2 separate regions of the Homo sapiens genome follow, and region 2 is linked to region 1. The links come from fine-mapping of genetic effects on gene expression. A gene starts in region 1. The other region holds a variant in brackets. All regions are shown on one strand. Distances are from middle to middle.

Evidence for each region. PIP is the estimated chance that this variant, and not a neighbour inherited with it, causes the effect.
Region 2: its variant is fine-mapped to the expression of DMPK in whole blood (INTERVAL, PIP 0.93).

Annotation. Positions count from the first base shown.
Region 1 is chr19:45,779,131-45,784,490 of GRCh38, reverse strand. It overlaps DMPK (DM1 protein kinase), which reads left to right and starts at 2,001. Exons shown (of 15, transcript NM_004409.5): 1 at 2,001-2,298; 2 at 4,622-4,713; 3 at 4,969-5,052; 4 at 5,132-5,227. The coding sequence starts at 2,139. DMWD (DM1 locus, WD repeat containing) reads left to right here. Exons shown (of 5, transcript NM_004943.2): 5 at 201-1,544. The coding sequence ends at 248. RefSeq lists a silencer at 4,770-4,939.
Region 2 is chr19:45,752,637-45,757,996 of GRCh38, reverse strand. MEIOSIN (meiosis initiator) reads right to left here. Exons shown (of 15, transcript NM_001310124.2): 6 at 4,209-4,346; 7 at 3,273-3,518; 8 at 1,919-2,027; 9 at 720-820. Among named protein-coding and RNA genes, the nearest start is that of DM1-AS, 12 kb to the left of the region's middle. The variant T/C (reference allele first, on the strand shown) is at 3,231.

The DNA.
Region 1 (5,360 bases):
CTGACTGCCAGGACAGGAAGCTAGCTAAGATGCAAGTTCCCAGCCTAGAGCAGTGGCCTCTGGGGGGTCTAGGGCGGACCCAAGGGCAAGGCCAGGGTGGCAGCAGCTTTGGGGACTCTGGGCTGGCTCCCTCCCCTTGACACTGGCTGAAGCCCAGGTGGTCTCTAACCCCTCCCATCTCTCCCTCTCATCTTCCCCAGGGCATCTCCTCCCAACCAGGCAACTCCCCGAGTGGCACAGTGGTGTGAAGCCATGGATATCGGGCCCCCCCAACCCCATGCCCCCAGCCTCCTAGCCATAACCCTCCCTGCTGACCTCACAGATCAACGTATTAACAAGACTAACCATGATGGATGGACTGCTCCAGTCCCCCCACCTGCACAAAATTTGGGGGCCCCCCAGACTGGCCCGGACACGGGCGATGTAATAGCCCTTGTGGCCTCAGCCTTGTCCCCCACCCACTGCCAAGTACAATGACCTCTTCCTCTGAAACATCAGTGTTACCCTCATCCCTGTCCCCAGCATGTGACTGGTCACTCCTGGGGAGAGACTCCCCGCCCCTGCCACAAGAGCCCCAGGTCTGCAGTGTGCCCCTCAGTTGAGTGGGCAGGGCCGGGGGTGGTCCAGCCCTCGCCCGGCCCCCACCCCAGCTGCCCTTGCTATTGTCTGTGCTTTTGAAGAGTGTTAAATTATGGAAGCCCCTCAGGTTCCTCCCTGTCCCGCAGGACCTCTTATTTATACTAAAGTTCCCTGTTTTCTCAGCGGGTCTGTCCCCTTCGGAGGAGATGATGTAGAGGACCTGTGTGTGTACTCTGTGGTTCTAGGCAGTCCGCTTTCCCCAGAGGAGGAGTGCAGGCCTGCTCCCAGCCCAGCGCCTCCCACCCCTTTTCATAGCAGGAAAAGCCGGAGCCCAGGGAGGGAACGGACCTGCGAGTCACACAACTGGTGACCCACACCAGCGGCTGGAGCAGGACCCTCTTGGGGAGAAGAGCATCCTGCCCGCAGCCAGGGCCCCTCATCAAAGTCCTCGGTGTTTTTTAAATTATCAGAACTGCCCAGGACCACGTTTCCCAGGCCCTGCCCAGCTGGGACTCCTCGGTCCTTGCCTCCTAGTTTCTCAGGCCTGGCCCTCTCAAGGCCCAGGCACCCCAGGCCGGTTGGAGGCCCCGACTTCCACTCTGGAGAACCGTCCACCCTGGAAAGAAGAGCTCAGATTCCTCTTGGCTCTCGGAGCCGCAGGGAGTGTGTCTTCCCGCGCCACCCTCCACCCCCCGAAATGTTTCTGTTTCTAATCCCAGCCTGGGCAGGAATGTGGCTCCCCGGCCAGGGGCCAAGGAGCTATTTTGGGGTCTCGTTTGCCCAGGGAGGGCTTGGCTCCACCACTTTCCTCCCCCAGCCTTTGGGCAGCAGGTCACCCCTGTTCAGGCTCTGAGGGTGCCCCCTCCTGGTCCTGTCCTCACCACCCCTTCCCCACCTCCTGGGAAAAAAAAAAAAAAAAAAAAAAAAAGCTGGTATAAAGCAGAGAGCCTGAGGGCTAAATTTAACTGTCCGAGTCGGAATCCATCTCTGAGTCACCCAAGAAGCTGCCCTGGCCTCCCGTCCCCTTCCCAGGCCTCAACCCCTTTCTCCCACCCAGCCCCAACCCCCAGCCCTCACCCCCTAGCCCCCAGTTCTGGAGCTTGTCGGGAGCAAGGGGGTGGTTGCTACTGGGTCACTCAGCCTCAATTGGCCCTGTTTCAGCAATGGGCAGGTTCTTCTTGAAATTCATCACACCTGTGGCTTCCTCTGTGCTCTACCTTTTTATTGGGGTGACAGTGTGACAGCTGAGATTCTCCATGCATTCCCCCTACTCTAGCACTGAAGGGTTCTGAAGGGCCCTGGAAGGAGGGAGCTTGGGGGGCTGGCTTGTGAGGGGTTAAGGCTGGGAGGCGGGAGGGGGGCTGGACCAAGGGGTGGGGAGAAGGGGAGGAGGCCTCGGCCGGCCGCAGAGAGAAGTGGCCAGAGAGGCCCAGGGGACAGCCAGGGACAGGCAGACATGCAGCCAGGGCTCCAGGGCCTGGACAGGGGCTGCCAGGCCCTGTGACAGGAGGACCCCGAGCCCCCGGCCCGGGGAGGGGCCATGGTGCTGCCTGTCCAACATGTCAGCCGAGGTGCGGCTGAGGCGGCTCCAGCAGCTGGTGTTGGACCCGGGCTTCCTGGGGCTGGAGCCCCTGCTCGACCTTCTCCTGGGCGTCCACCAGGAGCTGGGCGCCTCCGAACTGGCCCAGGACAAGTACGTGGCCGACTTCTTGCAGTGGGGTGAGTGCCTACCCTCGGGGCTCCTGCAGATGGGGTGGGGGTGGGGCAGGAGACAGGTCTGGGCACAGAGGCCTGGCTGTTGGGGGGGCAGGATGGCAGGATGGGCATGGGGAGATCCTCCCATCCTGGGGCTCAGAGTGTGGACCTGGGCCCTGGGGCAACATTTCTCTGTCCTATGCCACCACTCTGGAGGGGCAGAGTAAGGTCAGCAGAGGCTAGGGTGGCTGTGACTCAGAGCCATGGCTTAGGAGTCACAGCAGGCTAGGCTGCCAACAGCCTCCCATGGCCTCTCTGCACCCCGCCTCAGGGTCAGGGTCAGGGTCATGCTGGGAGCTCCCTCTCCTAGGACCCTCCCCCCAAAAGTGGGCTCTATGGCCCTCTCCCCTGGTTTCCTGTGGCCTGGGGCAAGCCAGGAGGGCCAGCATGGGGCAGCTGCCAGGGGCGCAGCCGACAGGCAGGTGTTCGGCGCCAGCCTCTCCAGCTGCCCCAACAGGTGCCCAGGCACTGGGAGGGCGGTGACTCACGCGGGCCCTGTGGGAGAACCAGCTTTGCAGACAGGCGCCACCAGTGCCCCCTCCTCTGCGATCCAGGAGGGACAACTTTGGGTTCTTCTGGGTGTGTCTCCTTCTTTTGTAGGTTCTGCACCCACCCCCACCCCCAGCCCCAAAGTCTCGGTTCCTATGAGCCGTGTGGGTCAGCCACCATTCCCGCCACCCCGGGTCCCTGCGTCCTTTAGTTCTCCTGGCCCAGGGCCTCCAACCTTCCAGCTGTCCCACAAAACCCCTTCTTGCAAGGGCTTTCCAGGGCCTGGGGCCAGGGCTGGAAGGAGGATGCTTCCGCTTCTGCCAGCTGCCTTGTCTGCCCACCTCCTCCCCAAGCCCAGGACTCGGGCTCACTGGTCACTGGTTTCTTTCATTCCCAGCACCCTGCCCCTCTGGCCCTCATATGTCTGGCCCTCAGTGACTGGTGTTTGGTTTTTGGCCTGTGTGTAACAAACTGTGTGTGACACTTGTTTCCTGTTTCTCCGCCTTCCCCTGCTTCCTCTTGTGTCCATCTCTTTCTGACCCAGGCCTGGTTCCTTTCCCTCCTCCTCCCATTTCACAGATGGGAAGGTGGAGGCCAAGAAGGGCCAGGCCATTCAGCCTCTGGAAAAACCTTCTCCCAACCTCCCACAGCCCCTAATGACTCTCCTGGCCTCCCTTTAGTAGAGGATGAAGTTGGGTTGGCAGGGTAAACTGAGACCGGGTGGGGTAGGGGTCTGGCGCTCCCGGGAGGAGCACTCCTTTTGTGGCCCGAGCTGCATCTCGCGGCCCCTCCCCTGCCAGGCCTGGGGCGGGGGAGGGGGCCAGGGTTCCTGCTGCCTTAAAAGGGCTCAATGTCTTGGCTCTCTCCTCCCTCCCCCGTCCTCAGCCCTGGCTGGTTCGTCCCTGCTGGCCCACTCTCCCGGAACCCCCCGGAACCCCTCTCTTTCCTCCAGAACCCACTGTCTCCTCTCCTTCCCTCCCCTCCCATACCCATCCCTCTCTCCATCCTGCCTCCACTTCTTCCACCCCCGGGAGTCCAGGCCTCCCTGTCCCCACAGTCCCTGAGCCACAAGCCTCCACCCCAGCTGGTCCCCCACCCAGGCTGCCCAGTTTAACATTCCTAGTCATAGGACCTTGACTTCTGAGAGGCCTGATTGTCATCTGTAAATAAGGGGTAGGACTAAAGCACTCCTCCTGGAGGACTGAGAGATGGGCTGGACCGGAGCACTTGAGTCTGGGATATGTGACCATGCTACCTTTGTCTCCCTGTCCTGTTCCTTCCCCCAGCCCCAAATCCAGGGTTTTCCAAAGTGTGGTTCAAGAACCACCTGCATCTGAATCTAGAGGTACTGGATACAACCCCACGTCTGGGCCGTTACCCAGGACATTCTACATGAGAACGTGGGGGTGGGGCCCTGGCTGCACCTGAACTGTCACCTGGAGTCAGGGTGGAAGGTGGAAGAACTGGGTCTTATTTCCTTCTCCCCTTGTTCTTTAGGGTCTGTCCTTCTGCAGACTCCGTTACCCCACCCTAACCATCCTGCACACCCTTGGAGCCCTCTGGGCCAATGCCCTGTCCCGCAAAGGGCTTCTCAGGCATCTCACCTCTATGGGAGGGCATTTTTGGCCCCCAGAACCTTACACGGTGTTTATGTGGGGAAGCCCCTGGGAAGCAGACAGTCCTAGGGTGAAGCTGAGAGGCAGAGAGAAGGGGAGACAGACAGAGGGTGGGGCTTTCCCCCTTGTCTCCAGTGCCCTTTCTGGTGACCCTCGGTTCTTTTCCCCCACCACCCCCCCAGCGGAGCCCATCGTGGTGAGGCTTAAGGAGGTCCGACTGCAGAGGGACGACTTCGAGATTCTGAAGGTGATCGGACGCGGGGCGTTCAGCGAGGTAAGCCGAACCGGGCGGGAGCCTGACTTGACTCGTGGTGGGCGGGGCATAGGGGTTGGGGCGGGGCCTTAGAAATTGATGAATGACCGAGCCTTAGAACCTAGGGCTGGGCTGGAGGCGGGGCTTGGGACCAATGGGCGTGGTGTGGCAGGTGGGGCGGGGCCACGGCTGGGTGCAGAAGCGGGTGGAGTTGGGTCTGGGCGAGCCCTTTTGTTTTCCCGCCGTCTCCACTCTGTCTCACTATCTCGACCTCAGGTAGCGGTAGTGAAGATGAAGCAGACGGGCCAGGTGTATGCCATGAAGATCATGAACAAGTGGGACATGCTGAAGAGGGGCGAGGTGAGGGGCTGGGCGGACGTGGGGGGCTTTGAGGATCCGCGCCCCGTCTCCGGCTGCAGCTCCTCCGGGTGCCCTGCAGGTGTCGTGCTTCCGTGAGGAGAGGGACGTGTTGGTGAATGGGGACCGGCGGTGGATCACGCAGCTGCACTTCGCCTTCCAGGATGAGAACTACCTGGTGAGCTCCGGGCCGGGGTGACTAGGAAGAGGGACAAGAGCCCGTGCTGTCACTGGACGAGGAGGTGGGGAGAGGAAGCTCTAGGATTGGGGGTGCTGCCCGGAAACGTCTGTGGGAAAGTCTGTGTGCGGTA
Region 2 (5,360 bases), 26 kb after region 1:
CTGAGGTCGGGAGCAGGGGCACGTGCCTGTAATCCCAGCACTTTGAGAAGCTGAGGCAGGACGATCCCTTGAGTCCAGGAATTGGAGGCCTCAGTGAGCTGTGATTGCGCCACTGCACTCCAGCCTCAGGGCGAGAACTTGTCTCAAAAGAAAAAACAAAACAAAAACACAAAAAGAGTTCGGAGGGGTGGTTCATGCCTGTAATCCCAACACTTTGGGAGGCTGAGGCGGGCAGATCACCGTAGGTCAGGAGTTTGAGACCAGCCTGGCCAACATGGTGAAACCCCATCTCTACTAAAAATACAGAAATTAGCTGGGCATGGTGGTGGGCACCTGTAATCCCAGCTACTCGGGAGGCTGAGGCAGGAGAATCACTTGAACCCAGCAGACAGAGGTTGAAGTGAGCTGAGACTGCGCCACTGTACTCCAGCTTGGACGACAGAGTGAAACCCTATCTCAAAAAAGAAAACAAACAAACCAAAAAGACCCAGAATGATTCTGAGGCCATGTCTGGGCTCAAGGAAAGAGTGGTGATTGATTGTCAAGCCTCCGTGGCAGCGGTGGCGGAGAGCTGGCAGGTGCACTGTGTGTTTGCCTTCCCTGTGCTTAGGGGATCTCCATTCCCTTTCCCGCCTCCTCTCTTCCATAGACATCCTCAGACTGAAAGTATGGGAAGGCCCACACCAGCCTACAAGGAGGAGAGACAGAGTTGCAGTCACCTTGGGGGCTGTTCTCTGGGGTCCAGGCAGGGAGCCAAGGGTCAGCGTCTAGGGACCCTTTGTCCACATCCTCGCTGGAATCATAGAACACCAGCTTCTGCCTGCAAGAGGTGGAGTTTCAGAGTCAGACTCACAGACTCTGGGCTAGAAACTGCTATGGGGCCCCTTTGGCACTCTGCACTGGCCCCTGGGGGAGTGCTGGGGGTGTAAAGCTCAGTCAGTCGAGGCTCCCATCCTCAGGGAGCTTACAGTCTCATGAGGATAGCCCAGCCCGTAAGCAGTGCTGTGACCGAGGGCGCTGGAGGATGATGAGCCAGTGGAGAGCAGTGGGCTCAGCCTGAGGGATGGGCAGTTTTCCAGGGGCACAGGGAAGCAGGCTATCCAGGAAGAAGTACTGGAATGTGAGAAGCTCAGAGGGGCTGGCGCAGGGCTTCTGGGGAATGGCAAATGTGTGGCAGTGTGAAGTATAAGAGTCATGGGTGAAGGGCAGGAGAGAGGGCTGACGAGGTGAGTTGGGGGCCACTGAAGGTCTCAAAGGCCAGGTGAAATATCCGGGCCGGGTGCAGTGGCCCATACCTATAATCCCAGCACTCTGGGAGGCTGAGGTGGGAGGATTGCTTGAGCCTACGAGTTCAAGACCAGCCTAGGCAACATAGGGGGACCTCATTTCTACAAAAAATAAACATAAAAAAATTAGCTGGGTGTGGTGGTGTGCACCTGTGGTCCCAGCTACTCAGGAAGCTGAGGCAGGAGGACTGCTTGAGCCCTGAAGGTTGAGGCGGCAGTGACCTATGATTGTGCCACTGCTCTCTGGCCTGGGCGACAGAGTGAGACCCTGTCTCAAACAAACAAACAAACAAAAATATTGGACTCTATGCTGCAGGCCTGAGGAAGGGCTTTAAGCCACAAACTCCGTGGTCAACGTCTCTGTGTTGGAAAAGCCATGTGGTCACATGAGGATGGGATGGAGGGGCAACAGGTGAGGCAAAGAGACTGGTGAGGAAGCTGTGACCATGTCTGGGAAATGGGAAGTCAGGCTTTCCTGCGAGCTCACAATGGCAGACACAAAGCTGGGCCTCCATTGGTGCTCAAGGGGCACCCGCAGAGGACGTGACTTGGCCTGTCTTCCCACTACCCCTCACCCACGCCAGACCAAACCCCTCAGCACCACTCACTCAGTGCCCTGGGGACGCCCTTACCTGGGATGGGGCTGGGTCTTGTTGAGAAAATGGATCCTCGCCACATCTTCCTGAGCCAGGAGCGCAGGGAAAGGTGCGTCATCCTGGACACTGCCCTGGCACCAGCAGCCTAAGGGGCAGATCAGGATGACCATGCCTGGGGACTGGACCAAATTCCAGGAAGCCCAGAAGCAGGGGACAAAGGGGTGCCAGCTTCTGCCACACACCCTCTCACTCCCCAATCCTAGCCCAAACCTCAGGATGCAGGGTGTCACGTTGGTGTGAGGCTGAGGGGTGCCCCAAATCACCCCTGGGTTTTTTGAATCCCACATCCCTATCAGAAGCTGTAATGGGGGCTGGGCACCGTGGCTCATACCTGTAACCCCTGCACTTTGGGAGGCTGAGGCGGTGGATCACGAGGTCAGGAGTTCAAGACCAGCCTGGCCAACACGGTGAAACCCCGTCTCTACTAAAAATACAAAAATTAGCCGGGCATGGGTGCGGGCGCCTGTCCCAGCTACTCAGGAGGCTGAGGCAGAGAATTGTTTGAACCTGGGAGGTAGAGGTTGCAGTAGCCGAGAGTGCACCACTGCACTCCAGCATGGGCGACAGAGCAAGACTTTGTCTCAAAACAAACAAAAAACTCTAATGGGCCCGGCACAGTGCCTCACACCTGTAATCCCAGCACTTTGGGAGGCCAAGGTGGGCGATCACCTGAGATCAGGAGTTCAAGACCAGCCTGGTCAATATGGCAAAACCCTGTTTGTACTAAAAATACAAAAATTAGCTGGGCGTGGTGGTGCGCGCCTGTAATCCCAGCTACTCGTGAGACTGAGGCAGGAGAGTCGCTTGAATCCAGGAGGCAGAGGTTGCAGTGAGCCGAGATTGTACCACTGCACTCCAGCCTGGGCGACAGAGCAAGACTCCATCTCAAAAAAAAAAAAAAAAAGAAAAGGCTGAATGAACAAATAGAGGAACGAGATGACTTGAGGCCTCAAAGCCTCGAGCTCCGACCTCCCTCCCTCTGGCCTAGCTCTCTGCTTGAAAGCATCACCACACGTTTTCCAAACCAGTGCAGTGACTGGGGCATGGGAGAGCCAAGTGAGGCCTGAGGCGGAGGCCCTGCCCTCCTCCCTGGTTCTGTGATGGGAAGCCCACACAAGACAATGACGCTGATCTCATCCCCCCATTACAGCCACGACACAGCCTGAGATGAAGACCACCAGAGCAAGGCCACAAGCTTGAGAAGTAAGAGGCGGTGTTTCCTATTCACTGCTGCAGCCCCCACTACGGGTACTGTGTCTGGGACACAGCAGGTGCCCCCAGAGTGGCA[T/C]CTTACTGAAAGACTAAGTTCAGAGTGAGGAAAGAGACCCACTTGAGATGTCACAGTGGATGGTGTCCTCGGCCAGATCCAACAGCGTCAGCTGGGACTGTCCTCCTTTTCTGTCACCTGGAGGTGAGGATGATGCAGGCCTCGGGTGACCGCAGGAGTCAGGGCACCTTGGAGGGGTAGTGGTCCCCCCTGTGCCACTTCCTTTCTGGTCTGGGGATGGGGCCACCAGCTTCTCAGGCTTGTTCAGGGCCAGAGAGCGGCGAGGCTTCGGGGTCCGAGTCTGGCTTTCTGGGGGAGCAGAGGTTCAGGTGTCAGAGGGGCCTGGGAGTCACCTGCCTGTCACCAGAATAGGGTTCAGGTGGGAAACATCCTTGTCAGTGTCAAAGCTATGCCTGGCCTGGTATGGGAATGCCCAGATCCTCAATCACAGGCCTCTTTGTTCAACCCCTGTCCACCTGTCAGAATCATCTTGCGACCTTTAAAAAACACTGGCCAGGCGCAGTGGCTCATGCTTGTAATCCCAGCGCTTTGGGAGGCCGAGGCAGGCAGATTACTTGAGGTCAGGAGTTCAAGACCAGCCTGGCCAACATGGCGAAACCCTGTCTCTACTAAAAATACAAAAATTAGCTGAGCATGGTGGCACATGCCTGTAATCCCAGCTACTCATGAGGCTGAGGCAGGAGAATCGTTTCAACCTGGGAGGCAGAGGTGGCAGTGAGCTGTGTCACTGTACTCCAGCCTGGTGGACAGAGTGAGAGTCTCTCTCAAAAAAAAAATACTGATGCCCAGGTTCTGCCATAGACCAGTGAACCCCAAGTTTCCGGGTGTGAGGCCTCAGTGCTAATACAAGGAGGAGCTGGGAGTTGAACCCCGGCACAGGGTGCTGAGAAGGCCCCCAGAGTAAGGACATCCCTGGAGAAGGAGCCCTGCTCCTGGGTGACCTGGGCTTCTAGTTCTGCCTCCAGTGACAGCTTGTACCTGATGCCTGGGTCAGCTTCTTCTTCCGAGGCTTCTGGCACGCCCCCTGGAGACAGGACTTCTGAGAGCTTGGGGAGCTGGAGGGGGTAGAGTGTCTCCTCCGCCTGGCTGGGCCCCAGGCTGGTTTCTGACCCAGCCCTGCAGGGATGGAGAGGGAAACAGCTCAGATCCCCCACCCCATCTGCATCCAACTGCAGTTCCTGCCTTCCAGACAATGCTCCTCAGTCCCGGGTCAGGGTGGGCCCCCAGGCTGACTTTACAGTGTGGAAACTGAGGGCTTATCCAAGGCCGCTCAGTCAGGACTGTGAAAGTAGAGGGCAAGAACTCAGGTTTCTTCAGGGCTGTTTTGGGCCTTGGCTCAGTGGGAGAATGGAATCAACACTTCCCCAGACTGGGCACCTTGAGGATGCTTCACCCTCTCCCCGCCCACACCAGTACCTCCTCCCGCCTTCCTCAACACAGTGAGGGTCTCCTAGCCGACCCCCTCAAGGTCACTGGGGCCTTTCCCTCTGGCCTCTCGATTCTTCCTCATTAACATCTTCTAGGTTTACTCACTTCTATCCACATTCTCATCTACAGCGCTAGCTTGGGCCTAATTGTCCCGTCTAGATCACTCCGAACAGTGTCTTTCCTCATCTCCCTGACTCCAGTCTCTCACTTCATGACCAGTCCTCAACACTACATGTCAGGGACAAAAATTAGCTGGGTGTGGTGGCGGGTGCCTGTAATCCCAGTTACTTGGGAGGCTGAGGCAGGAGAATCGCTTGAACCCAGGGGGTGGAGCTTGCAGTGATCCGAAATTTCGCCACTTCACTCCAGCCTGGGCGAAAAGAGCGAGACTCCGCCTCAGAAAAAAAAAAAAAAAAAAAGAAGAAGAAACTATCTGAGTAAGAGCTTGCAGGCATGAGAAGACACGCGCGGGGTGTCTGGGGACAGGCAAGTCATTGGGTGTGATTGGAGGTCTGCGTGGCATGGAGATGATGTGTGTGGGCTCTGAGCCAGGCCCTGACTCAGGCTCATCTCTGTGACCTTAACCTCTCTGGGCTTCAGTTCCATCACCTGCAAAACAGGACCACATTAGCTTTTCCCTTCGGTATTTGTCCTGACGATTAAATGTGAGTTAATACATAGAAACAAGTCAGGCTTGGTGGC